7 linked regions of the Homo sapiens genome follow. The protein of the gene in region 2 interacts with the protein of the main gene of each other region in a pairwise test. Each region holds a gene or a part of one and is shown on either strand. Other genes may lie near its edges. The genes, in order: NFU1, FKBP7, FARS2, TMEM229B, STX7, TMEM54 and TARS2.

Region 1 (3,500 bases), about 110 Mb from region 2:
AACACATATAGGTATACATTTACATACATACACACATGCAGACACACATACCCTCTCCCCTTAAACTTCCCTAACTCTACATTACAGTCATCACACTTCAAATTATTTTAAATCATATCTATTTCCCAAATTAAAGAAAATTAAAGTATATATCTCGTTAACAATCAAGATTATTAACAAAACCATAGTAATTAATTTTGACAAAAAAGCTTTTCTTTCTTTTTTTTGAATGTAGTTTTTTACTACATTCAAAATCCTGTGTTCTAAGGTCTGGATGAAAGCCAGAAATTTACTAATTTTAAGGGTATTCTTATCCAAAAAAAGGACAGCAGTAGCTTTAAATACATAGAATTCTTTGAAACACAATCCCCATTTGAAACTTCTTTTTGAGACAGGGTCCCACTTTGTCACCCAGGCTGGAGCACAGTGGTGTGATCACGGCTCACTGCAAGCTTGAACTCCTGGGCTAAAGGGATTCTCCCACCTCAGCCTCCCAAGCAGCTGGGACTACACGTGTGCGCCACCATGCCCAGCTAATTTTTTGTATTTTTTGTAGAGACAGGGTTTTGCTGTGTTGCCCAGGCTGGTCTCAAACTCCTGGGCTCAAGCGATCAACCTGCCTCAGCCTCTCAAAGTACTGGGATTACAGGCATGAGCCACCACACCCAGTCAGATTTTAACTTCTACAGTATTTTCATTTTGGAAATCATTTATTGAGCAACTCTTGTGTTGCAGGGGATATGTTATACAACATACTGAGATTTCATAGATCTATTGGACAATATCCTTGCAAATACATTTTCTACTTAGAAGCCTATAAGAAAAATATAGCTTTTTTTCCTATATTCTATCTATAGGCTTCTAAATAGAAAATATACAAATTCTCATCTTTTATGATCCACAAAATCCTAGCACAGTTCCATCAGTTTCTGAAACACAACTGCTATAAAAGAGGTGAAATTTTACCTGGGTGATAAAAGGCTGCAGGTAGTGGGAAAAGTGGTCTTTGTACAAACTGATGCAGAGGCTGTTTCTTAATGGTGTATGGATTCTTCAACATATGACAGAACCTGCATTTAAAAGCACATAATGAATGACATTTTAAGAGCTCTAATCTTTTAAAGTTGGTTTCTACTTCTCATGTATAAAAAAGACCTATGTAAAATTTAAACATAACCCGCAATAGAAATAATTAGAGAACTGACTTTTCATCTTCCATCTACATTATTTCCACTTACTTAGGCAAGCAATATCTACAAACAATTCAAAATCAGGTAGAGCTCAAATGGAAATTCCTACCCTTGATAACCGGGTGTGCACAGGATAATATAACATTGAGGTATAAGAAACAGAATTGGGCTGGGTGAGGTGGCTCACGCCTGTAATCCCAGCATTTTGGGAGGCCGAGGCAGGTGGATCACGTGAGGTTGGGAGTTCAAGACCAGCCTGACCAACATGGAGAAACCCCATCTCTACTAAAAATACAAAATTAGCCGGGCATGGTGGCACATGCCTGTAATCCCAGCTACTCAGGAGGCTGAGGCAGGAGAATTGCTTGAACCCAGGAGGCAGAGGTTGCAGTGAGCCAACATCATGCCATTGCACTCCAGCCTGGGCAACAAGAGTGAAACTCTACCTCAAAAAAAAAAAGAAACAGAATTGTATCTACATTAGTAATTTATAACCCATAGTCCCAGACTCTTGGTTATACAGGAAGGAAGCAAATAACTATAAGCTTTTTTATTTTTTTAAAAAATTTAGAATTAGGCAATAGAGTCACATGGTTCAAAACTGGTAAGGGAAAAAAGCATAAATAGTGAAAGCCTCCCTCCTTTCCTGTCCCTTACGTTTCCCTCTCTCAAGATAACCTATATTACCTGTTTTGAAAAGTATTTCAATACTTCAAAAAATCTAAAAGAAAGTATACTATTGGGCCAGGGGTGGTGGCTCACGCCTGTAATGCCAGCACTTTGGGAGGCCAAGGCAGGTGGATCACCTGAGGTCAGGAGTTCGAGACGAGCCTGCCCAACATGGTGCAACTCCATCTCTACTAAAAATACAAAAAATAGCTGGGAGTGGTGGTGGGCGCCTGTAATCCCAGCTACTCGGGAGGCTGAGGCAGAGGAATCGCTTGAACCCAGGAGGCGTAGGTTGCAGTGAGCCGAGATCGTGCCACTGCACTCCAGCCTGGCCCAAAGAGCAAGACTCCATCTCCAAAAAAAAAAAAAAAAAAAGTATACGACTGTCCTTTTTGTTTTTGAGATGGAGTCTCACTGTTGTTGGCCCAGGCTGGAGTGCAATGGCACAATCTCGGCTCACTGCAACCTCCATCTCCCAGGTGCCAGCAATTCTGCTGCCTCAGCCTCCCGAGTAGCTGAGATTACAGGTGCCCGCCACCATGCCTGGCTAATTTTTGTACTTTTTAGTAGAGACAGGGTTTCACCATGTTGGCCAGGATGGTCTCGAACTCTTGACCTCAGGTGATCCTCCCGTATCGGCCTCCCAAAGTGCTGAGATTACAGGCATGAGACACCACACCTGGCCCGTCTTTTTTTTTTGAGACTGAGTCTCACTTTGTCGCCCACGCTGGAGTGCAGTGATGCGATCCCAGCTTACTGCAACCTCCACCTCCTGGGTTCAAGTGATTCTCTTGCCTCAGCCTCCCTAGTAGCTGGGATTACAGGTGTACACCATCACACCCGGCTAATTTTTATATTTTTAGTAGAGACAGGGTTTCACCACGTTGGCCAGGCTGATCTCCAACTCCTGACCTAAAGTGATCCACCTGCCTTGGCCTCCCAAAATGCTGGGATTACACAGCCAACGATCTTGATCACGCTTTTCGTGTTTTGTTTTGAGACAGGGTCTTGTTCTGTCACCCATGCTGGAGTACAATGGTGTGATCAGGGCTCACTGCAGCCTCAACATCCTAGGCTCAAGTGATTCTCCCACCTCAGCCTCCCAAGTAGGTGACACTACAGCTGTATGCCACCATGCCCAGCTAGTTTTTTTTTTTTTTTTTACTTCTGGTAGAGATGGATTACCACTATGTTGCTCAGGCTGATCTCCAGCTCCTGGCTCAAGTAATCCTCCCACTTTGGCCTCCCAAAGTGCTGGGATTATAGGCGTGAGCCACCATGCCCTGCCTTTTATATGCTTTTTGGATGGAAACATATTAACCCAGTGTTGTAACTTCACTTCACTTTTTTTTTTCTTTTTTTTTTTGTGAGACGGAGTCTTGCTCTGTCGCCCAGGATGGAGTGCAGTGGTGCGATCTTGGCTCACTGCAACCTCCGCCTCCTGGGTTCAAGCAATTCTCCGCCTCAGCCTCCCAAGTAGCTGGGATTATAGATGCCCACCACCATGCCCGGCTAATTTTTGTATTTTTAGTAGAGACAGGGTTTCACCATCTTGGCCAGGCTGGTCTTGAACTCCTGACCTCATGATCCACTAGCCTCGGCCTCCCAAAGTGCTGGGATTACAGGCGTGAGCCACAGCGC
Region 2 (3,500 bases):
AATCTGTTCTGTTGCCCAGGCTGTAGTGCAGTGTCGCGATCTTGGCTCACTGCAACCTCCACCTCCCGAGTTCAAGTGATTCTTGTGTTTCAGCCTCCCAAGTAGCTGGGATTACAGGCACAAGCCACCACACCCAGCTATTTTTTGTATTTTTAGTAGATACGGGGTTTCACTATGTTGGCCAGGCTGGTCTTGAACTCCTAGCCTCAGGTGAGCCACCCACCTCGGCCTCCCAAAGTGCTAGGATTACAGCTATACGCCACTGTGCCCAGCCCAAAACTTGAATTTCTTAAGAAAAAATATTGTAGGTACATATGCAGTTTTTGAACAATTTTGCTATAAACATAGAAAATATTGGCCGGGCGCAGTGGCTTATACCACTTTTTTTTTTTAGACAAGAATCTTCCTCTGTCACCCAGGCTAGAGTGCAATGGCGCGATCTCGGCTCACTGTAACCTCTGCCTCCCAGGTTCAAGCAATTCTTATTTGGCTTATACCACTGCGCCTGGCCAGGAGGGCGAGATCAGCCTGGCTGGCCAGGAGTTCGAGACCAGCCTGGCCAACATGGCGAAACCCCATCTCTACTAAAAATACAAAAATTAGCCAGGCATGGTGGCGTGTGCCTGTAATCCCAGCTCCTCGGAGGCTGAGGCAGGAGAATAGCTTGAACCCGGGAGGCAGAGGCTGCAGTGAGCCAAGATCAATCACACCACTGCGCTCCAATCTGGGTGACAGAGCAAGACTCCATCTCAAAAAAAAAAAAAAAAAAAAGGATATATTGCCAATTACCTCTTTTTCTTGTTTTTTTTTTTTTTTTAAAAAAAACTAAAGTATAAAAATGAGGAAAATATGCATTTGCTACGGAATTACTTATATTTAGAGAAGCAGATCAAAGAAGTAGGAATTAAGGTAAAGAATATATACATACCGCATGTATTGTTATTTAAGCACTAACAAGTCACATGCATTTCAAGACATGCAGGGTTGTTCTGTGACATGAGACAAGGATATTTTGCAGAAGAAAGACTTCTTCAAGTACTACCTAAAATAAAGTTATAGCTAATGTTAGGTCTTAATAACAACTTACTTTTAAATGCTTATTTAATCAAGAGGTTGTTTGTTAAACAGTTACTTAAGGTCTACACTGCAACTTTTAAAATAATGTAATCCAAGGTATTGGATTACAATGCCTAATGTAACGCAGGCAAGGTCAGTATTAACTATGGTCCAATTAACACTTTTTTTGGGCCTCAGTTTCTTACTCTGTAAAATGAGGGTGCTGGTGGTATTACTAGTGAGATTAATCACTTTAATGTTTGTTAGAGATACCTCCAATTGAATATGAACTTGTTTCACATCAAACTTCTATATCTCTGCAGCAAGTTTCTGATTTATTAAGAGCTTAGGCAGCCTGGGTAGTCATTCATATCTAAGCATAAATTAGTTTATGAAAAAGATAAGCTAAGTGGTCCTTTGCCTGATGGCGGTGAACCCTGGATGAGCACCTGATGATGACAGATGTGTGTGCTCTAGGCAGATAGGAGAGTGGGTGCTCTAGTGGTAGGCAGAATGTGGAGGCATCTGAAGACACAACGCAAGACAGAAAGGAAAACTTTGAAAATGAGAAAGAGACTGAAAGGCAAACTCTGCCTCCAACATTTTGCCTAGAAGTGGCCTCAACTTTTGACAACATTTTTAGCACAAGTATTGCATTTGACTTAATTTATTTTCAATTTTCCTTCTCTTTCTCCTAGGTTCCTATACAAATAAAAACAGGATATATGAATTATGGTACCATGGGAGCTGTTCTGATGGGATCAAATTATTGGCAAAAAGCATTAAAAATAAAGCTGAAGTTATCTGGAAATTGTCTCTTTAGGAGTTTTAAGCCTGACTGGGTCTGACTCAAAGCACTGACACCCCCCCACCACCCGCCAATCCAGTGTGGGGCACTGATGCCCCGATTTTGCTGGAAAGAACTCTTAATGACTAAGACAACTGCCTCAAAGAAGGCATGCCACTTCCATGAAATATTTGGGAGCAATGCCAATATCTCATTGTGGAAAATTAATCTTTACTATTTCAAACCGGTGGAGTCAGCAGTGGCTCTAAATAGGGTAAGGAGGCAAAGATTCTTTCTGTATAGCCTTCAAGCAGCAACACGGAGCAAGAACCTAACTAAGGATGCAAGGTACAGCCTATCAGGCTGCCCATCCTCCTGCCTGCTTTAAAAATTTTCTTCTCTGTTCTGCTACATGCAATTTTTGTAATTTAAAATTTTAATTTTGGAAAAATTAATACATGCCTTATAAAACTTTCAAATGGTACAAAATGTTAGAGTGAAAAGAAATCTTCTCATCCTTGACCCTGAGGCCTCCTTCCCAGGAACACTTAATGTCATCAGATGACTGCATATTCTTCCAGATGTATTCTGTGTAGATACATGCATATGTGAAACTCCTCCTCTGAAATGAAAGCTCATAGAGGATTGGGAGTAGTGTCTACTTTGGTCACTGCTTTATGCCCAGTGCCTAGAACAAAGCCTGGCACTGATGCTCAATATATATCCCAAAAGTGGAATATAGTCTTGTCCACTTTTTTTTTTGAGCCAGGGTCTTGCTGTGTTGCCCAGATTGGAGTGCAGTGGCACAATCACAGCTCACCGCAGCCTCGACCTCCCAGGCTCCAGGGATCCTCCCATCTCAGCCCCCTGAGTAGTTGGGACCACAGGCGGATACCGCCACGCCTGGCTAACTTTTTAATTTTCTGTAGAGATTGTGTCTCCCTACATTGCCCAGGCTGCTTTCAGACTCCTGGGCTCAAGTGATCCTCCCACCTTAGCCTCTCAAAGTGCTGGGATTATAGGCATGAAGCCACCATGCCTGGCCTCCACTTTATTTTTAACATATTAATAAGTATAGCTCTACTTCATTCTTTTTACTGGTTACACAGTAATTCATTGTATAGATATACTATAATTTATTTAACTAATTTCCTATTGATGGATAGGCAGGTGGTTTCCAACCTTTTGCCACCCTCCCACCCAAAAATGCCTGCAGTGAATGTTCTTTTACATATACCTTTGTGCACATTCCTGGAAATGGAACTATTGGATAAGAAGGCACGTGCATTTTCACTTTTTTTTTTGAGATGGAGTCTCGCTCTGTTGCCCAGGCTGGAGTGCAGTGGCGCAATCTTGGCTCACTGCAACCTCTGCCTCCCAGGTTCGAGCGATTCTCCTGCCTCAGCCTCCCAAGTAGCTGGGATTACAGGCACACTCTACCACACCCAGCTAATTTTTGTATTTTTAGTGGAGACGGGGTTTCACCATATTGGCCAGACTGGTCTCGAACTCCTGACCTGAAGTGATCTGCCCACTTCAGCCTCCCAAAGTGCTGGAATTACAGGCATGAGCCACCACACCCGGGCCTGCATTTTCACTTTTGATAACAGTTGATAGAGAAGTTGAATGATTTCCATTCCCAGCAATAATGCTGGTT
Region 3 (3,500 bases), on a different chromosome or scaffold from region 2:
GTCTGTTCATATCCTTCGCCCACTTTTTGATGGGGTTGTTTGATTTTTTTCTTGTAAATTTGTTTAAGTTCTTTGTAGATTCTGGATATTAGCCCTTTGTCAGATGGATAGATTGCAAAAATTTTCTCCCATTCTGTAGGTTGCCTGTTCACTCTGATGGTAGTTTCTTTTGCTGTGCAGAAGCTCTTTAGTTTAATTAGATCCCATTTGTCAATTTTGGCTTTTGTTGCCATTGCTTTTGGTGTTTTAGACACGAAGTCCTTGCCCATGCCTATGTCCTGAATGGTATTGCCTAGGTTTTCTTCTAGGGTTTTTATGGTTTTAGGTCTAACATTTAAGTCTTTAATCCATCTCACATTAATTTTTGTATAAGGTGTAAGGAAGGGATCCAGTTTCAGCTTCTACATATGGCTAGCCAGTTTTCCCAGCACCATTTATTAAATAGGGAATCCTTTCCCCATTTCTTATTTTTGTCAGGTTTGTTAAAGATCAGATGGTTGTAGATGTGTGGTATTATTTCTGAGGGCTCTGTTCTGTTCCGTTGATCTATATCTCTGTTTTGGTAACAGTACCATGCTGTTTTGGTTATTGTAGCCTGGTAGTATAGTTTGAAGTCAGGTAGCGTGATGCCTCTAGCTTTGTTCTTTTTGCTTAGGATTGACTTGGCAATGCGGGCTCTTTTTTGGGTCATATGAACTTTAAAGTAGTTTTTTCCAATTCTGTGAAGAAAGTCATTGGTAGCTTGATGGGGATGGCACTGAATCTATAAATTACCTTGGGCAGTATGGCCATTTTCACGATATTGATTCTTCCTATCCATGAGCATGGAATGTTCTTCCATTTGTTTGTGTCCTCTTTTATTTCATTGAGCAGTGGTTTGTAGTTCTCCTTGAAGAGGTCCTTCACATCCCTTGTAGGTTGGATTCCTAGGTATTAGAACTAGAAATACCATTTCACCCGGCAATCTCATTACTGGGTATATACCCAAAGGATTATAAATTATGCTCTGTAAAGACACATGCACACATGTGTTTATTGCAGCACTGTTCACAATAGCAAAGACTTGGAACCAACCCAAATGTCCATCAATGATAGACTGGATTAAGAAAATGTGGCACATATACACCATGGAATACTATGCAGCCATAAAAACGGATGAGTTCATGCCCTTTGTAGGGACATGGATGAAGCTGGAAACCATCATTCTGAGCAAACTATCGCAAGGACAGAAAACCAAACACCGCATGTTCTCACTCATAGGTGGGAATTGAACAACGAGAACACTTGGACACAGGATGGGGAACATCGCACACCGGGGCCTGTGGTGGGGTTGGGGGAGGGGGGAGGGATAGCATTAGGAGATATACCTAATGCCAGCATGGCACATGTGTACATATGTAACAAACCTGCACCTTGTGCACATGTACCCTAGAACTTAAAGTATAATAAAAAAAAAAATGAAAATAACCAAAAAAAAAAAAAGAGAAAAGAAGAGTCCTTTCATTGCTGTTTAGCAGTATCTCATTTTAGTAATTTTTCTAGTGACATATTTGAAGTTCTGATTGACTTCTTCGAATGAGTGTATTAGCCGCCATCTCTTGTTTGTTCAGGTCAGTAGGTTGTTTACAGAAAACATTTAGAATTTGCAGTGTTGAGTCTGTTTACAAAAAACAGCCTACATTTTGCTAATCACTGGAAAAATACTAGGTCAGTGTCTTAAGATGTGCAATACTGAGATCTGTGATGTTAACTGATCTCTCAGAGGATGGGTCGATACATATCGTTGATAGTATACTGTAGACTGTTATTAACAATAGAAGATATACAGAGAATTCATGATTTCTTTGGTATTATAGTGAATTACATGATTTAATATTTTATAACGTTTTAATGTAAACATTTATTTTCTGAGCACAATTGAAGCACTTCAGCCTGGCAAACTTGTAATCTGTATGTGTAATTGTGAGTTTGAGTTAACTAACAATATTTAAGAGTTATAAAAGCCTGGCTTCTGTGAAATGGATTACAGTAATATTGGCAGAGAGTAAAACAGTTAGTTTCAGTTAATGAAGATGAGTTTTTTGGGAGAATTATCTTTTTTTAAATCAATTCCTGGAATTCTGCAGTGCAAAGGGAAAGTAAAATGAAGCAGTCATGAAATAGAAAAAGCTTAGCAGGCAGCATACTTTCTTTCCTGTTTCTTGACGTTCTGAGATAAGCACATTGTTATTTATTTCAAGTCTTGGAGCACTTTGAGACAAGCACATGTGCCTGGGCATTCATAACATTAAGCCCTGTTAGGAATCCCACTTACACCCTTGGCTTCTGCGTACTGTGAGAGCTGGGCTGGATGATAATTACAGTCAGCTTTCATTTGTAGAGCCCAGGTCTTCAAATAATTTCCAAGTAAACTATCCCAGATTAATACGTTTCAGGACATAAGTGTGGTTCGCTAGAGCTGTCAAGCTGTCTGGATGCCCTTCTGTTAACTTTGTAGAAGAGATTCCACGTGTGTCAAGTTACAGTGTTTGCTGAAATTTTTCTGTTGTCTTGAAAGCTATTTGAAAATGAAATGTTCATTATAGTACTGGTGGTCAGGTATGTTCCTTAGATATATATGAATTAATGTCACCACACTATAGACAGTAATTTTTATATCACCTTCTCTCCAAAAACCTGCAGCACTTTTAGGATGAAGTCTAATTCCTTAACACAGCCTATGAGACCCTGACGACTATGGCGCTTACCCACTTCTCCAGTCCCATGTCATACCTTTTTATTTTTCGCTTGCTGCTTTTCATTCTTTAGTACTCACCTCTTTCCCCTCTACCCTGGGGACCTTTGCAAATGCTGATCCAGCTGCCTGGAGTGCCCTTCCTTCCCTTGCTAATTATTCTTCTGATCTCAGTTTAAGAGATGCTTACTCAAAGCTACCTTCTCTAACTTGAGTACATCTTCCTCTGTTAAGCTCCCTTAGTATGGTGAATTGCTCTTCAGCTTAGAGTGACTGCCATTGCAAGTAACTGAAGTCAAATTGTTTTAAACAAACCTAGTGGCTTTATTGTCTCCTGTGTCTTGAGGGTTCAGAAGCCAGATGGGCTTTAGGGTTGATTGGTTTGAGTGATGTTGCCAAAGATTCAATTTTGTGCTTTTCTCTACTTTGTCTTCTCTAACGTAAATTTTATCGTCTGGCCAGAGTCCTCTCTCTCGGTTATGGGAAACCATCAACAGTTTGGGGGCGCTTGTTTCCAAAACCTTAGAGGAGTGAGAGAGCTTCTGGACCAAGAGTGCTCAGCAGTCCTCTCCGTTCATGTCACTGGCCCTCCTTGTGTCATGTCCTCATCCATTTCTGAACCAATAACTGTGACCAGGGAGAAGATAGGATTCTTTTGGTCTTGAACCAGTTGCCTAGCTCCTAGAGATAAAGGGGAATTATTTTTTGTAAAAGGAACAAAGTTCACTAGAGCAATCTTGCCAGAGTTATATTTTTTTATTTGATT
Region 4 (3,500 bases), on a different chromosome or scaffold from region 2:
GCCTTAAAAAATGACAATTGGCTGCTTTCCCAACCCCCAGAGGCCTGTCTGGCCTGAAGGCTGTTATGTCTGTGCAGGGCCCGTAGCCTGGTGGGATCAGAGGCCTGCAGGAAGGAAGCTCCCCAGAAGGCATGGCAGGCAGAGCTGGGCTTTTGCAATCTTGAACAGACAAGCTTTTTTTGGAGTTCCTAGGCTGGTCCATGGGAACCCAGAGCTTCAGATTCCATGCAGGAATTTGCAGGGAGTAGAAAAGGGGTAATCAGGTCTTTTTCCACTTTAGGTAGATCTTGACTCTCCTAGTTGACAGTTTATAATTCAGGGCCAGAATCTGTTTTCCACTCAGCCTGGGCTTACAAAGTCAGTTTGACTGGAGAGTTTCTCAGGAAGTGTGTTCTTGAGTTGATTTGTAGCCAGGGTGGTGTGAGCAAGCCTAGACTGTAGGAGGGGAGTTGGGGGTAAAGAGATGGCCATGGGTGCCTCTGTGGGAACGTCGTTCCTCAGATGGGAGGCACATCTCCCCAGAGCAATTTATGCCATCAGCCTTAAGGCTGTTGTACCGTTTGGTTCAGTGATTCTCCTTCTGGAATTATCCATTAAGATATATTATTAGGAAATAGTACCAGAGAAGAAAAGGGCTGAATTCTTCCATTACAGGCATTAAAGGTAATTCTCGTTATATCATCTGTAGTAGTAGAAATGGGAAACAACTGTTCCCTTTGGACATCTAGGTTAAGTAAATTACAGTTTTCCGCTTGCTGGAATATTACACAGCCATTATAATAATGAGCACAGAGGCTATATAACAACTTGGAAAAACAGTTATGACAAGTAAAAATGGCAGGTTGCAGAATAAGTATATTATGGTGACTTGTAAAATACACACATAGGAAAATATTGCAAAGGAGAAATGGTAATCGCTGTTAGTTCAGAATTATGAGTGCTTTTTCTTTTTTTTTCTTTATTAGAAATGAGGTCTCACTATGTTGCCCAGGCTGGTCTCAAACTCCTGGGCTCAAGCAGTCCTCCCGCCTCAGCCTCCCAAAATGCTGGGATTACAGGTGTGAGCCCCCATGCCCGGCCTATGAATGCTTCTTCTATGATGCATGGATTGGCTTTTTAAAAAATAAAATTGAATCCGGATGACTACACAACATACCATTAATAGTGACTTTCTCTAAGATGTGTGATTACAGGGAACTTTTGCTTTCTATGTCATTCTGTAATGTTTAAATTTCAGCTGTGAGCACATGTTGCTTTTATAATTAGAAAAAAAATTAAATGCTAGAATTAAATGTTTTAGAAGGCTATATTTCTCAAGAAAGGAGGGAAGAGAGACCGAGGCAGCTAGCTGTTTATACCTGCCCTCATCAGTGTTTAAGGGCCTGGGCCTGTTTGGGCCCACTCATCCATCCATTCATTCCACAAGTATTACTAGGTATTATTGCCAGGCACCACTCTAGGCACTGACTAAACAGCAGTGAACAAGACAGTGCCCCTGCTCTCATGAAGTTTTCATTCTAGTTGAGGAGAGACAGACCATAAATAAGTAGCAACATATCAGAAAGTGAAAGTGCTATGTAGAAAATAAAATGGAATGATGTGAGTGACAGAGAGGCTATTTTGGACTGGGGATCAAAAGTCCCTGAGATATGACAGCTCAGCTGAGATCTGAATGGTAACAGCAAGGCAGCCACATACAGGTCTGGGATGCCAGCCTGCCAGTCCCCCGTGCAGGGCATCCTTCGCTTTCTGAGCCCCAGGGACCTCTGTGCCAGAACTGACTCCATCCCCCAAGCCCACTCACCCTGCCCTGCCTCCTGCTGCGGTTTGCTTGGGATCTGAGGCCCCCTGAAATCCTCTGTGTTCGGACCGCTCCTCCTGACATGCTGGCTGTTGCTCCTCTGGGCAGCTGGCCCCTGCTCTTGGCTGGTGTCTCCATGGCAGGGCTGGGCCGGGCCATCTGAGACTCCCAGGAGCACTGGTGTGGGCTGGCAGTCAGGGGGCCTCTGGGTTGTGTGTGTCCTGGTGAGGGGCCTTTGAATGGCGCATGCCTTGGGGCCTGAGGGTTGGTTGCTGTCATGGTCCTGTGACTGTCAGCTTTGACCCTGGAGGGCCTCTGTGTGGATCCCGAGGAACAGGCTGGGAGCCTTTAGGAACTCTGACACCCAGTTGGGAAGTTTGTTAATGAACCACCTAGAAGTTCACAACCTTCTCCTTGCTTCCTGTTGTCTCTCCACATACCATCCCAGCCTTCCAGAAGCAGGAACTCAGAAAATGGTAGTGCCCTCAGAGGAGCCTGCAGTCAGCCTCGGGGGCAGTGCAGTGTGCTGATTAGGAGCAAAGACTCTGGAACCAGATTTGTGGGGTTTGAATCCCAGCCTTGCCTTTTATAGTTATTAGAATGTAGGCTCGGCCAGGTGTGGTGACTCGTGCCTATAATCCCAGCACTTTGGGAGGCCGAGGCAGGCAGATCACTTGAGGTCAGGAGTTCAAGACCAGCCTGGCCAACATGGTGAAACCTCGTCTTTACTAAAAATACAAAAATTAGCTGGGTGTGGTGGCAGGAACCTATAATCCCAGCCTCTTGGGAGGCTGAGGCATGAGAATTGCTTGAACCCGGGCGACAGAGGTTGCAGTGAGCCAAGTTCACACCACTGCACTACAGCCTGGGTGACAAAGTGAGACTCCATCTAAAAAAACAAAAAACAAACAAAAAAAGAACGTAGCCTCTTTCTGCCTCACTTTCCCCATCTGTAAAATGGGCTTGAGAATTTTTTGAGTTAATACATGGAAATACTGAGAAGAGCACCTGGTTATTATTATTACTGTGACTTGGGAGGTGGAGGGAGGACTTCATCAAGGCCTGCAGTATCACTAATCCCAGGGGCTTTCCTTGGGGGGCACCCACAGCAAGAGGGTGGAAGTCTGCAGCATGTGCACCAGCCAGTGGCTACAGGAGTTTCCCTCCACTTGCTTCCCTTCTGGCCCTGGGCAAGCCCTATTTTCCTCCCTGCTAACTTGATGACAACAGGGGAAGTTCAGGGAGGTTTCTGCCCTTTCCTCATTGAAGCCACTTATCTTCAGCACAGAGCCGCCCAAGGGCTCCTGAAGCTGTCCCCCGCTGCGTTGCCTCAGGGGTCTCCTAGAAGGGCTGTGGGTCTCCCCAGAACATGGAACTGTAGTGATGGGGGTGGCTGGGGATGGGGAGTGAAGCTTGGGAAGTGAGTGGAGTGAAAGCGGAAGGCCTTCCCAGCCCGGTTGCATGGGAGGGGAATCCCAATTTTCTGGCCAGATGCTTCTCTGGACAAAAATTCCCAGAGTCACTGTGTTGTGGCACCTTAGCCCCCTGAAACAAGATGGGAGTTTTTGACAAAACCAAGGGCAGTTATTCCATCTGGTTTTGCCTTCAGCCTGTCTTAGACTTTTATGGCAGCCTCTTTACCCCTCTCAACTGCTGGCCATGTCCCCTGCCACCCTGTGGAACAGCAGGCTCGGAGAGC
Region 5 (3,500 bases), on a different chromosome or scaffold from region 2:
AAAAAGCCAACTAGAATCTAGCTGTGAAGTTCAACTGAATTTGCGGTAGTTGGCTCTTTATTTAACCCTGAAGTTTTCACTTACTCCCCAATTACAGGGCCTTACAGATTAACTCTCAGTAACATTCTGATAGTATGTCAAATACTGTGCATATTTAACTTGAGGCAAAAGACCCATTATGCTGGATTTCTCACCTCAGGTTTTCACGCTGCTAAAAACTAGCTTATTATTTTGAGGCTATTTTAAAGTAATTCTTTTTCAGGCAAATAAAGCCTTATACTTTTAGCTAAGTAATAACTTCCATTAAATAAGCAGGGAAATAAATATGTGCCCCCAGGACACCTCACATCTTGAATGAGCCTGCATGTTCCACGCAGTCAGCCCCGGAAGGCCAGGAAATAATTACTCAGGAAGCATTTTCTGAGAACTAACTTAATTATGGGTCAGGGCAAATGCATGGAAATAATTTTTGCTTTATTGAACCACAGGATACTACCTGAGCAATTAAATATAGTTTTGTGTTCTGTGAACTAATCTCAAACAGAATTATTTTTGATTTCCTTTCTAGCATAATTTCCTTTCTAGCGTAACAGTTCAAAGATCCTACAGTGCACTGGGTTTTTTTCACATTCAATACATCAACAATGTGTCTTAAAGCTTGATACCTGTTCACTGGGGGTGGTGGGCAGAGATCCAAACTCTTTAATGTACTTATCTGTTTCTTTGGCAAGCTGGTTAGTATACTGCTGCTTCTGTTGCCTAAAGTGAGAAAACACGCATTACAGCCAAAGGACTAATATACTTCTTTAAGCTTCAACTCTGCCTTTTGAATCAACACTGATAAACAGTTGTACAAAAATTGCCTTTTCATAAACTGGCTCTCAACTTTCTCTATCAAAAAAAATTTCATATCCTATTCTTTGATAAATAATGAGCAAATATTATATGTCAGGTTCTTCACTCACACAGGGTAGGCAAGCTTAGAGAAATCAATTCAACGGCCATTTAGAAACACAGATGACTTGAATCAGAGGGAACCTGAAGGAGAGACTGTTAGATGTCTGATCCTTTATGTTTGAGATACTGGGGATGTGGAAGCCCTTTATCTGCATCTCACACCTGGAAGGTCAGGTAAGCAAGAAAAGATTTGTTACCTTAGACTTTGCCCAGTTCCCAGATCTAGTTATATCTGGCCTCTCTTATTTCTCTATGTGAACATGTATATGCTATAGATACTTAAAAAAAAGGCGGGGGGGAGGGGCCAGGCATGCTGGCTCACACCTGTCATCCCAACACTTTGAGAGGCCGAGGCAGGCGGATCACTTGAGGCCAGGAATTTGAGACGTGCCTGGCCAACATGGCGAAACCCCATCTCTACCAAAAATAACAAAAATTAGGTAGGTGTGGTGGAGCATGCCTGTGATCCCAGCTACTTGGGTGGCTGAGGCAGAAGAATCACTTGAACATGGGAGGTGGAGGATGCAATGAGCTGAGATTGCACCACTGCACTCCAGCCTGAGCAACAGAGGAAAACTCTTGTCTCAAAAAATAAAAATAAAAAGGAAAGAGGCAATATTGGTACAAATTTACTATTATTTAAGTTTACGCTGGAAAAAATAATGGCATTTCCTTGTAAAGGGAAAGAACACAATAAATAAAAGAAGTAAATTATAGTCATCCCTCAGTATCTGCAGATTGGTTCCAGGACCCCTGTGGATACCAAAATCCGCTGATGCTCAAGTCCCTGATATAAAAAGGTATAGCATTTGCATATAACCTATGCATATCCTCCCATATCTTTAAATCATCTCTAGATTATTTATAATACCCAATACAATAATGTAAATGCTATGTAAATAGTTGCTATATTTTATAGTTCAGTTTTTTTTTTTATTATTGTGTTGTTTTTTTTTTTTTCTTGAATATTTTTGACCTGCAGTTGGTTGAATCTGGGGATATATAATCTATGGATACAGAGTGCTGACTACATATCCATATTTTATCTAGCTATCTTATAAATTGAAAAGATTTCCAACTTAAAAACATGACACTAAAAAAAAGCTCATATTAATTGTGATGTTTTACAAATCACAACATCAGTACCTCTTATATATTTCATCTCATTTTAAATATGGTCTGGTCACACTTGGGGTCCTTTAAAATAATGAGATATTGTATAAGAATATGCTTAAGAATAGGGATCTGTATTTGACTGACAAAGGGTAATTAAAATCTATTTCTATCTCTATTTACCAAATACCCTATCTTTAATGCATTTTTGTAAATCTCTGGAAATCATAATATAGTCAAAGTTTTAAAAAGAAGACCTTAGGCTGGACATGGTGGCTCATGCCTGTAATCACAGCACTCTGGGAGGGTGAGGTGGGTGGACTGTCTGAGCCCAGAATTGAAGACCAGTGCCGGCAACATGGCAAAACACCATCTCTACAAAAAATACAAAAATTAGCCAGGCATGGTGGATGTGCCTGTATTCCCAGCTACACAGTAGGCTGAGGTGGGAGAATCGATTGAGCCTAGGAGGTCCAGGCTGCAGTGAACCGTGATAATGTCACTGCACTCCAGCCTGGGTGACAGCATGAGATCCTGTCTCAAAAAAAAAAAAAAAAAAAAAAAATCCTTAGTGACTACGGATATATATTCAGAATCTTCATTATTAACTCTATCAAAATATTAGAACTTTTATGAATTATGTACTTCTATTCCATTTTACTTTAGTTTAATGAATTGTGGTTTATTATTTAGATTTGGAGCATTTTTACCATTCTGACACTTACCCACTGTGGAAAAATAAAATATAAATTAGAGATAATTGTAAGTCCTTCAAATTGTACTTCCTAAAAATATGAATTCCTATTACCTATCTTTTAATATCGTCCTCTTTGCAGTTTTCCCTCTATAGTTAATGTTGTTTAGAAGTATTGCTTACTAGATATATGTGACTTGAAATTTACAGCTGTAACAGTACTGAAATAAAATTTAAGAGTTAAGTTCTAAATGACATTGGGTAACTCGTTAAACCCGTAAGAGACATGAACAAAATGGAAACAGTTCTTTTGGTCTATTTCTCTTACTCTAATTCTGTAAGGTTTAAATGATAAAATATGTAAAAATACTCTGTAAAATCCACAACATACCACAGACAAAATATTATCACTATGACTGCTGGTCTTCTAACAGCATATTAATTTACTGGAATATGTACTATATAATTCATTATAACTTTTTTTTAAACGGAAGCTAATGCTCTCTGAAATTCAAGGATGTAGGTATAAACTTGTGGGGAGACAGCTCACGTAGCTGGTTATGTATTGGATCTAAACCAAATAAAACTCTGGTGACTGCGGGGATTTTTAGCTATGGAAAGTAAATCACATAAATTGAGATACTAGAGTATAATTTTTCAACAGCTGTCAAAAACAACCTACCTAAAAACTGTAAGAAATGCAACTAAAGAAATTCTGCTTTGATAGGGTAAGCCT
Region 6 (4,295 bases), on a different chromosome or scaffold from region 2:
GTCTGCCCCTCAGTCAGGCCCCCTTACCCACCCACCAGCCCCAAGGCCCGACCCCTCCCCCAAAGGGGCAGTCCCCTTCTTGCAGGTCTCAGCTTGCGGGGTGGGGGGAGTCATGCCCAGGGGAGGAGACTTTTTATCTGGAGGGGAGAGAAGGATTCTAGGGGTGTGGAGTTGGAGAAAGAGGCTTCCTTGAGCCACCCTTCCCACCCCAGCCCTTGCTGGTCCCTAGGCCAAGCCACCAAGTGAAACCTTCCAGGATACTAGCCCGCCAGCTGTGGGCCCCAGAAAGCCAGCCTGCCTTTTAGCACTTGGATACACACAGACCCACGGAGCTCTCTGTGTTTGGCCTCTCACACACACACAGGCCCATAGACAGATGGGCAGATGCACCCAGAGCCCCATGCACAGTGTCCTGCGTGGGAAAGAGACACGGTCCCCCTGGCTGAGCCCCTGTCCTCCCCTCTGTCCCCCCAACCGCCCCCCCTGCATGCAGCCAAATGGAGCATCTCTGTTCTTTTTAATAATTTCAGAATAAAGTCTCATTTCAGTGCAGTGGGCTGGGTGGTGGGGGAGAGGGTTGAAAGCCCCACTTGGGTCCCCGAGGGTCCATTGAGCCCTCTCAGGCCAGCTCCAGGAATCCTGGCCTGGTCACAGAGCAGAGTTGCTTGCAGGGTCCTAGTGGCCATCGGGCCTGGGCAGGACATCATCTCTCAGAGGGTCAGAGGCTCAGAGCTGGTGCAGCTCAGCAGGTCACGGCCCTCCACCAGCTCTGGGTTCTCCCGCATCTGCAGAGACACAGGAGGCTGCCAGACCCACTGGTTCTCAGCCTGGGTCTCCTCCTCCAGGACATCCGGGAAATGGAAGGAGGTGAGGGCTGGAAGGCTCTCTGGGGGCAAAGGGGCATCACTACCCACTCCACTGCAAGAGCCAGGCCTGACCTTTGCAATGCCCTCAGTGCGAGCCCAGACACCCCTGCCCCTCCCTCAAGACTCATCCTGGGCCCTAGGAGAGCCAGGTGTCAGCTGTGTGACTCTGCTGGGAGATCTCACCTCTCCCAGCCTCCAGGCCTCTCCCTTTGCTCCTGGGGAGAAAACTTCTGCCCCATTTCTCAAGGTGGGGGCCCATACATAGGGGTGGGGCAGAGCAGCTTGGGCACCCTGGCAGGGGCTCCCAGGAAATTCGGGGAGTCAGGGCTGTGGAGGGAACTTACCATGTGGTGGCTGCTTTTCCCCCACCAGGGCCTCAGCTCCAGCAGCTGGTGGGTGAGCTGAGCACAGCGTACAGCAAACACGTTCTCCGCCACGCAGAGCACTAGGGCGATGCCCCAGAGGCACAGGCTGGAGCTCTGCGGGGCATGGGGCAGAGATGGCTGGCTGGAGTTGGGGGTGGAGGGTGGATTCCAAGAGCCCTTCCCACCCGTGCGAGGGCCTGGTGCCCCTACTCCAGGCCTAGGTACTCACATAAATGCGTGTGGGGTCGAAGGGACAGTCAGGTGCGAGGGCCAGTAGTTCAGAGCTCCCAAAAGTGCAGGCAGCCAGCAGTGCCTTGCCCTGGGTGGCAAAGGTCATGGCGATGGAGGCCAAGAGGCCGAGGGCACAGGTCAGAGAAAGGAGAGCACAGGCCACGCTCGAGCTAAACACTGTCCAGCGCTGGACGGGGGAGGCCACTGGTCAATGGGCGTCGTGCTTGGCCCCCATGGGCAGCTCTGGCCTCCCTGAGGGTCAGCCTTACCCTCTCCAAGGAGGCCAGGCCCTTGGCGGGTGGCTGCTGCCCCTACCCTTCCCTCACAGCCCCATCCCAGGAGGCACCACGTACCAGGGGGGTGCTAGGGAGGTAGCGTGACAACACGATGGCTGCGATGCCTGAAGTGATGACCTGTAGGGAAGGCTCAAGTCAGCCCTGACTCCTTGGCTGGAGGAACAGGGGCAGGGGGATCAGGGCCACTCTGGGATAATGATCTCACCGGCGCCAACCATTGCCCTCCAGACTCCCCCACCCCTCACCTGCTGCTTAGCCTGGGCCTCACATCTCCATCTGCCTCCTCATAGTCCAGCCTGACATGATGTTTCTAAAACAGTCACTCCCTCTCTACAACCTTCCATGAGTCCCCACTCCTAAGCCTGTGTCTCAAGCAGGTTCATGTATCCTGGGGCCACCGGGGCATGCCAGGGTATGCATGGGACACCCCTTTCTGGAATGAAAAAGATTGTGGAAGAAACTAACCCAGTTAGCAAGGAACTAAAATCAAAATTGTTACATTGAAACAAACCAAGACATGTTATGGAGTAGAATTTTAAATCTCTGGGAGTATTTTCAATGATTCCAGGCTCTCAGTGACCAGATCCCAGCCCCAACCCTGTTGGCTTCTCAGCCCTACCTGGGCTACCTTCCTCCCTCACTGCTCTGGATGTGGATGCCCATACACAGCCTGCTCAGGACACTGCCCATGCACCCTCTCACCTTCCTGCTCCTCTGCCCGTGTGGATCCTGCAAGCCCTGCTCAGGTTTGCACACGTTTCCCTAACCAGCCTCGATCCCAAGGGGTGGGGCTACCCCACAGTTCAGCCCAACAGCTGCCCTCTGGATCTTTGGGGTCCACCCAGCCAGCCTTCCTCCTGATGTTCCTCACTGGACCAGGCTTGGGCCGGACCCATCTGAGGCAGGTGGTATGACGGGGTCCTGGGTTCCAGGCCTAGCATGTCTTTAGTTCACATGAGAGCCACAACAGAGTGCCTCATCTCTGTGGGCTTAGCCCCACTCTGCAGGATGAGCTGACAGAAAGGACACTGGTTTTGGTGTCAGACACAAATAGTTTCCAATCTGGTTTGGCTTCTGTGTATCAGCAGGAGGTTGGGTGAATCCCTGAGTCTTGGTTTCCTCTTTTGTGAAACAGGTATAATAATGGCCCCCAGTTGCTGGGAGAAGTGAGGATTAACCGAGTAAGTGAGGGGAAGGCTGAAGTGGTCCAGCTCAAAGTCCATCCTGGTGGACCTCCTCGCCCTGAGCTCACTGCCTTCCCTGCCTTCCTCACAACAGTATTAGAGGAACTCCAAGGACCCTGCACACATCCGCCCATCCCAGCCCTGTCCCACCAACAGAGCCTCTCTTTCTTGCTGGGACCTATGACTCCCATTCTCCCAAGCCTTGAGGCCAGCAGGCTGTCTGAGCTTTATTTTGCAAGGGAGGAACAGGCCTAGAGAGAGAAATAAGTCCCTCAGCCAGGAGAAGGCAGGGATGGAACTCAGACACTGATGTGCGGGAGGATCTTCCCCCGAGGCTGTGGCCACTTGTGCTGACCGGCAAGAAAGAGCTTTAGAAACTTGAGACTACCAGACCCCTCCATTCATGTGCTAGTCAAACAGGTACTGATATCTGGTCACAACCGTGGCTACCATTCATTGAGCAGTTGCTACAGACCGGGCCTAATGCTAAGCTCCTGCCAAATTGGTTTTCTCAGAATCTCCAGAACAGATCTTAGTCATTTCCACCTCCAACCTTCCCGTCTCCCATTCTCTGTACTCGGAATGCCATCTCAGCTTCCTTTCCTGCCTATGCTAGCCTCAGCATGCCAATATGTAGGTTCTGGTCATGGCAGCCTGTCTGTGAACTCCTGCTCATCCATCAATACCCAGGTCAGAGGCCTGCACTCTGTGAAACCCTCCGGCACCCTCCCAAGCTCACCTCCTGCTCCTTTCTTCTGTCCAGTGGTGCTGTGGCTATTCCTCGATGTAATAATCATCCTAGCTCACAGTAGTGGGTGCTAACAACATGCCATGCCAGACACTCTGCTAAGCACTTTGTGTGGATGATCTCATCAGTACCCATTAGGACCCTCAGAGGTAAACACTGTTACCATCTCCATTTGATAGATGAAGAAGTTGAGTGACTTGGGCAGTTGGTAAGTGGCAGACAAAGGGTTAGTCCTTGAGGCTGTCTGCTTACCACCACAGGCTCTGGGTGGGGACCTGTTGAAGACCCTTCAAGCCCCCTCCAGCCTCCTCCCACCAACCACCCTCCCAGCCTGGCCATACCACGATGGCGGAAGTGACAGAGAGGATGTTGACCACGCAGTACTGCAGAGCCACCGCATCTTGAGGGGTGCCCACGTAGCGCAGCACTGTGCCATGGAACAGGGCAGCTGTGATGAAGCTCACATGGCCCAGCACCACCAGCACCAGGCCTGTCTTCATCAGCACCTTCCGGAAGTCGCCCACACTCAGGCCTCCTGTGGGGGACAGCTATGTCAGGGCTGTGCGTGGGGCTTATCCTGCTGGGCAGAAGGGGAAGCTGAGGCC
Region 7 (3,500 bases), on a different chromosome or scaffold from region 2:
TTGTGGTTGCAATCAGCATGGCCTGAGGGCCCAGGAAGATCACACAGCTGACACCCTACCTGCTTTCCTTCCAGTTACTCTGACCTTCCATGTCTGTACCCTCCTCTCCAGGCTGAGTATGCCCATCGTGGTTTCTCCGAGGTGAAAACTCCCACACTGTTTTCTACGAAGCTCTGGGAACAGTCAGGGCACTGGGAGCATTATCAGGAAGACATGTTTGCCGTGCAGCCCCCAGGCTCTGACAGGCCTCCCAGCTCCCAGAGTGACGATTCTACCAGGCATATCACAGATACACTCGCCCTCAAGCCTATGAACTGCCCTGCACACTGGTAAGCTGGGAGCTAGGGTTACAATCAGGTTGCTAAATATTAAATAATAGAAAGCACCTTGGGGCCGGGCACGGTGGCTCACGCCTGTAATCCCAACACTTTGGGAGGCCGAGGCGGGCGGATCACCTGAGGTCGGGAGTTTGAGACCAGCCTGACCAACATGGAGAAACCCTGTCTCTACTAAAAATACAAAAAATTAGCCGGGCACGGTGGCGGGCGCCTGTAGTCCCAGCTACTCAGGAGGCTGAGGCAGGCTAATGGCGTGAACCCAGGAGGTGGAGCTTGCAGTGAGCCGAGATCGCGCCACTGCACTCCAGCCTGGGTGACACAGCGAGACTCCATCTCAAAAAAAAAAAAAAAAAGAAAGCACCTTGGAAAGAGTATTGGGACACCGATTTGAGCCTACAGTCTTCCCCCTAGCTAACCATGTAAATTTGGGAAACTCATTTTACCTCTTTAGGTCTCAGTCTCCTTAAAGTTGCTATCTAAGGCTCCTCCTTCAGCTCAGTGACCATCACAGAACAGGGAAATGGTAAACGATGTCTGTTATTGTGTTACTGAGAAATCCACTTTTGAACCTCAGGGCTCAGACTGTGATGAGTGGGATTGACAGGACTCAGTGGGAGGATGTGCTGAGGCTGGAGAGGGTTATAGCAGATGGTGCAGAGAAAGTAGGCAAGCAGATTGGGTGGAGGAGCAGTCTTCGGGGGCTAGTCCTCCCTATGGCCCTGACCCCTCTGCACCCCAACCTCAGCCTGATGTTCGCCCACCGGCCCAGATCCTGGCGGGAACTGCCCCTGCGACTAGCTGACTTTGGGGCTCTACACCGGGCCGAAGCCTCTGGTGGTCTGGGGGGACTGACCCGACTGCGGTGCTTCCAGCAGGATGACGCTCACATCTTCTGTACAACAGATCAGGTGGCCTTTCCCTGGCTCCACCAAAGCTTTTCTAAACCACCTTTCTTTCTCCCTATGAACCTGCAAACCCCTGATCTTTATTTGCCCCCTGTATGTACTATAATTCAGCTACATTCTACCCCCAGCTTGCTTCCGCTTCCTCTCTGTTTTTGCCCTTTGTTTTCCTCAAACTGCCAGCATCCCTGATCTCTAGCGGGCTCACAGCTCACTGACCCTTATTTCCTGCCCCTAGCTGGAAGCAGAGATCCAAAGCTGTCTTGATTTCCTCCGTTCCGTCTATGCCGTTCTTGGCTTCTCCTTCCGCCTGGCACTGTCCACCCGGCCATCTGGCTTCCTGGGGGACCCTTGCCTTTGGGACCAGGCCGAACAGGTGAGTAGGAGGTAGAGAAATAGAGGCAGATAAACCACTCTCTGGTGGGAAGGAGTGGAGAATACAGTAATCAAGGTTCTCAGAGGCATCTGGTGAGTGGGTCATTTGTTGGGGACTGACCGGATGTGTTGCTTTTGAAGTCTAAGATGATGTATTCCACTCTTGTCTCATTCCTTCAAAGGTCCTTAAACAGGCCCTGAAGGAATTTGGAGAACCCTGGGACCTCAACTCTGGAGATGGTGCCTTCTATGGACCTAAGGTAAGCTTGGGACCCTGGTTAGTGTTGTATTTATTTATTTTTTGCTTTGTTTTAGTAAATATTTAATAGATACAAAGAATTTTTTTTTTTGAGACAGTCTCACTCTGTCACCCAGGCTAAAATGCAGTGGTGTGATCTCAGCTCACTGCAACCTCCAGCTCCCTGGTTCAAGCAATTCCCCTGCCTCAGCCTCCCGAGTAGCTGGGATTACAGGTGTACGCCACCACACCCGGCTAATTTTTTTGTATTTTTAATAGAGATGGGGTTTCGCCATGTTGGCCAGACTGGTCTCGAACTCCTGACCTCAGGCAATCCACCCCACTTGGCCTCCCAAAGTGCTGGGATTACAGGCGTGAGCCACCGCACCCGGCCACAAAGAAATATTTTTAAACTTACGTAGGATATAAAGAAAAACAATATACTTTCTGCCCTCTTGGCATCTGCAATCTAGTGAGGGCTGCTGAAGGTAAATAGGCCATATCAGTGCTGCGAGATCTGTGCTGTGTAGGTACCAAGAGAGCACGTTAGCTGGGGTTAGCATTACTCGGGGAGGTTACAAAAGGTGTCCTGCAGGAATCACTTTCCAATCTGAAAGGTGAGTGTTGGCCAAGTAAAGATGTGTTTCAGGAGGGAACAGTGTAGGCAGAGGCTGGGGATAAGGATGAAAACACATGGCAGACCAATCTGGGCAACACAGGGAGACCCTGTGTCTACCAAAAAAAAAAAAAAAAATTAGCCGGGTGCAGTAGCTTGTGCCTGTGGTCCCAGCTACCCAGCAGGCTGAGATGGGAGGATCACCTGGTCCCAGGAGGTAGAGGCTGCAGTGAGCCGAGATTGCGCCCCACTGCACTCCAGCCTGGGTGATAGAGTGAGACCCTGTCTCAAAAAAAAAGAAGCCAAGGGGAAAAAAGGACTGAAAAGTGTCCACTGGATTTAGTAAAAAGGCTGCTGGATTTCAAAGGACCATTTTCAGTAAAGTAGGGCCTGAGGGTGGAGTTAGAAGATGAATAAATGAGGCCTGTGTGGTGGCTCACGCCTGTAATCCCAGCACTTTGGGAGGCCGACGTGGGTGGATCACTTGAGGTCAGGAGTTCGAGACCAGCCTGGCCAACGTGGCGAAACCCCATCTCTACTAAAAATATAAAAATTGGCCGGGTGAGGTGTTAGGACACACCTGTAGTCCCAACTACTCAGTAGCCTGAGGCAGGAGAATCGCTGAACCTGGGAAGTTGCAGTGAGCCAAGATCACACCACTGCACCCTAGCCTGGGCAACAGAGCAAGACTCCGTCCCAAAAAGTAAAAATAAAACAGGCTGGGGGCGGTGGCTCACGCCTATAATCCCAGCACTTTGGGAGGCTGAGGCAGGTGGATCACCTGAGGTCAGGGGTTTGAGACCCTGTCTCTACTAAAAATACAAAAATTAGCCCAGCGTGGTGACAGGCACCTGTAAACCCAGGAGGCGGAGGTTGCAGTGAGCCGAGGTCGCACCACTGCACTCCAGCCTGGGCGACAGAGTGAGGCTCCATCTCAGAAAAATAATAATAAAATGAAAAATAAAATAAATGCTATGATGAGAGGAAGTCTATTTGGAGGGAGAAGTTGTTGTAAAGGGAAGTTCCTGGAG

Evidence for each region.
Region 1: the proteins of FKBP7 (region 2) and NFU1 interact in binary tests that used the Homo sapiens proteins (3 or more experiments, as listed by UniProt).
Region 3: the proteins of FKBP7 (region 2) and FARS2 interact in binary tests that used the Homo sapiens proteins (3 or more experiments, as listed by UniProt).
Region 4: the proteins of FKBP7 (region 2) and TMEM229B interact in binary tests that used the Homo sapiens proteins (3 or more experiments, as listed by UniProt).
Region 5: the proteins of FKBP7 (region 2) and STX7 interact in binary tests that used the Homo sapiens proteins (3 or more experiments, as listed by UniProt).
Region 6: the proteins of FKBP7 (region 2) and TMEM54 interact in binary tests that used the Homo sapiens proteins (3 or more experiments, as listed by UniProt).
Region 7: the proteins of FKBP7 (region 2) and TARS2 interact in binary tests that used the Homo sapiens proteins (3 or more experiments, as listed by UniProt).

Annotation. Positions count from the first base shown.
Region 1 is NC_000002.12:69,430,936-69,434,435, forward strand, and holds part of NFU1 (NFU1 iron-sulfur cluster scaffold homolog, mitochondrial), read right to left. Parts: intron 1,071-3,500; coding exon 967-1,070; intron 1-966. UniProt on the Homo sapiens protein: Iron-sulfur cluster scaffold protein which can assemble [4Fe-4S] clusters and deliver them to target proteins.
Region 2 is NC_000002.12:178,472,101-178,475,600, forward strand, and holds part of FKBP7 (peptidyl-prolyl cis-trans isomerase FKBP7 isoform a precursor), read right to left. Parts: intron 1,868-3,500; exon of another isoform or gene 1,755-1,867; intron 1,043-1,754; exon of another isoform or gene 929-1,042; intron 1-928. UniProt on the Homo sapiens protein: PPIases accelerate the folding of proteins during protein synthesis.
Region 3 is NC_000006.12:5,268,013-5,271,512, forward strand, and holds part of FARS2 (phenylalanine--tRNA ligase, mitochondrial), read left to right. Parts: intron 1-3,500. UniProt on the Homo sapiens protein: Is responsible for the charging of tRNA(Phe) with phenylalanine in mitochondrial translation.
Region 4 is NC_000014.9:67,482,222-67,485,721, reverse strand, and holds part of TMEM229B (transmembrane protein 229B), read left to right. Parts: intron 1-3,500.
Region 5 is NC_000006.12:132,471,617-132,475,116, forward strand, and holds part of STX7 (syntaxin-7), read right to left. Parts: intron 760-3,500; coding exon 666-759; intron 1-665. UniProt on the Homo sapiens protein: May be involved in protein trafficking from the plasma membrane to the early endosome (EE) as well as in homotypic fusion of endocytic organelles. Mediates the endocytic trafficking from early endosomes to late endosomes and lysosomes.
Region 6 is NC_000001.11:32,894,095-32,898,389, forward strand, and holds the end of TMEM54 (transmembrane protein 54), read right to left. Parts: intron 4,226-4,295; coding exon 4,032-4,225; intron 1,876-4,031; coding exon 1,816-1,875; intron 1,650-1,815; coding exon 1,461-1,649; intron 1,346-1,460; coding exon 1,211-1,345; intron 840-1,210; coding exon of another isoform or gene 786-839; coding exon 711-785; 3' UTR 501-710; downstream 1-500.
Region 7 is NC_000001.11:150,497,419-150,500,918, forward strand, and holds part of TARS2 (threonine--tRNA ligase, mitochondrial), read left to right. Parts: intron 1-111; coding exon 112-329; intron 330-1,083; coding exon 1,084-1,246; intron 1,247-1,478; coding exon 1,479-1,616; intron 1,617-1,797; coding exon 1,798-1,875; intron 1,876-3,500. UniProt on the Homo sapiens protein: Catalyzes the attachment of threonine to tRNA(Thr) in a two-step reaction: threonine is first activated by ATP to form Thr-AMP and then transferred to the acceptor end of tRNA(Thr). Also edits incorrectly charged tRNA(Thr) via its editing domain.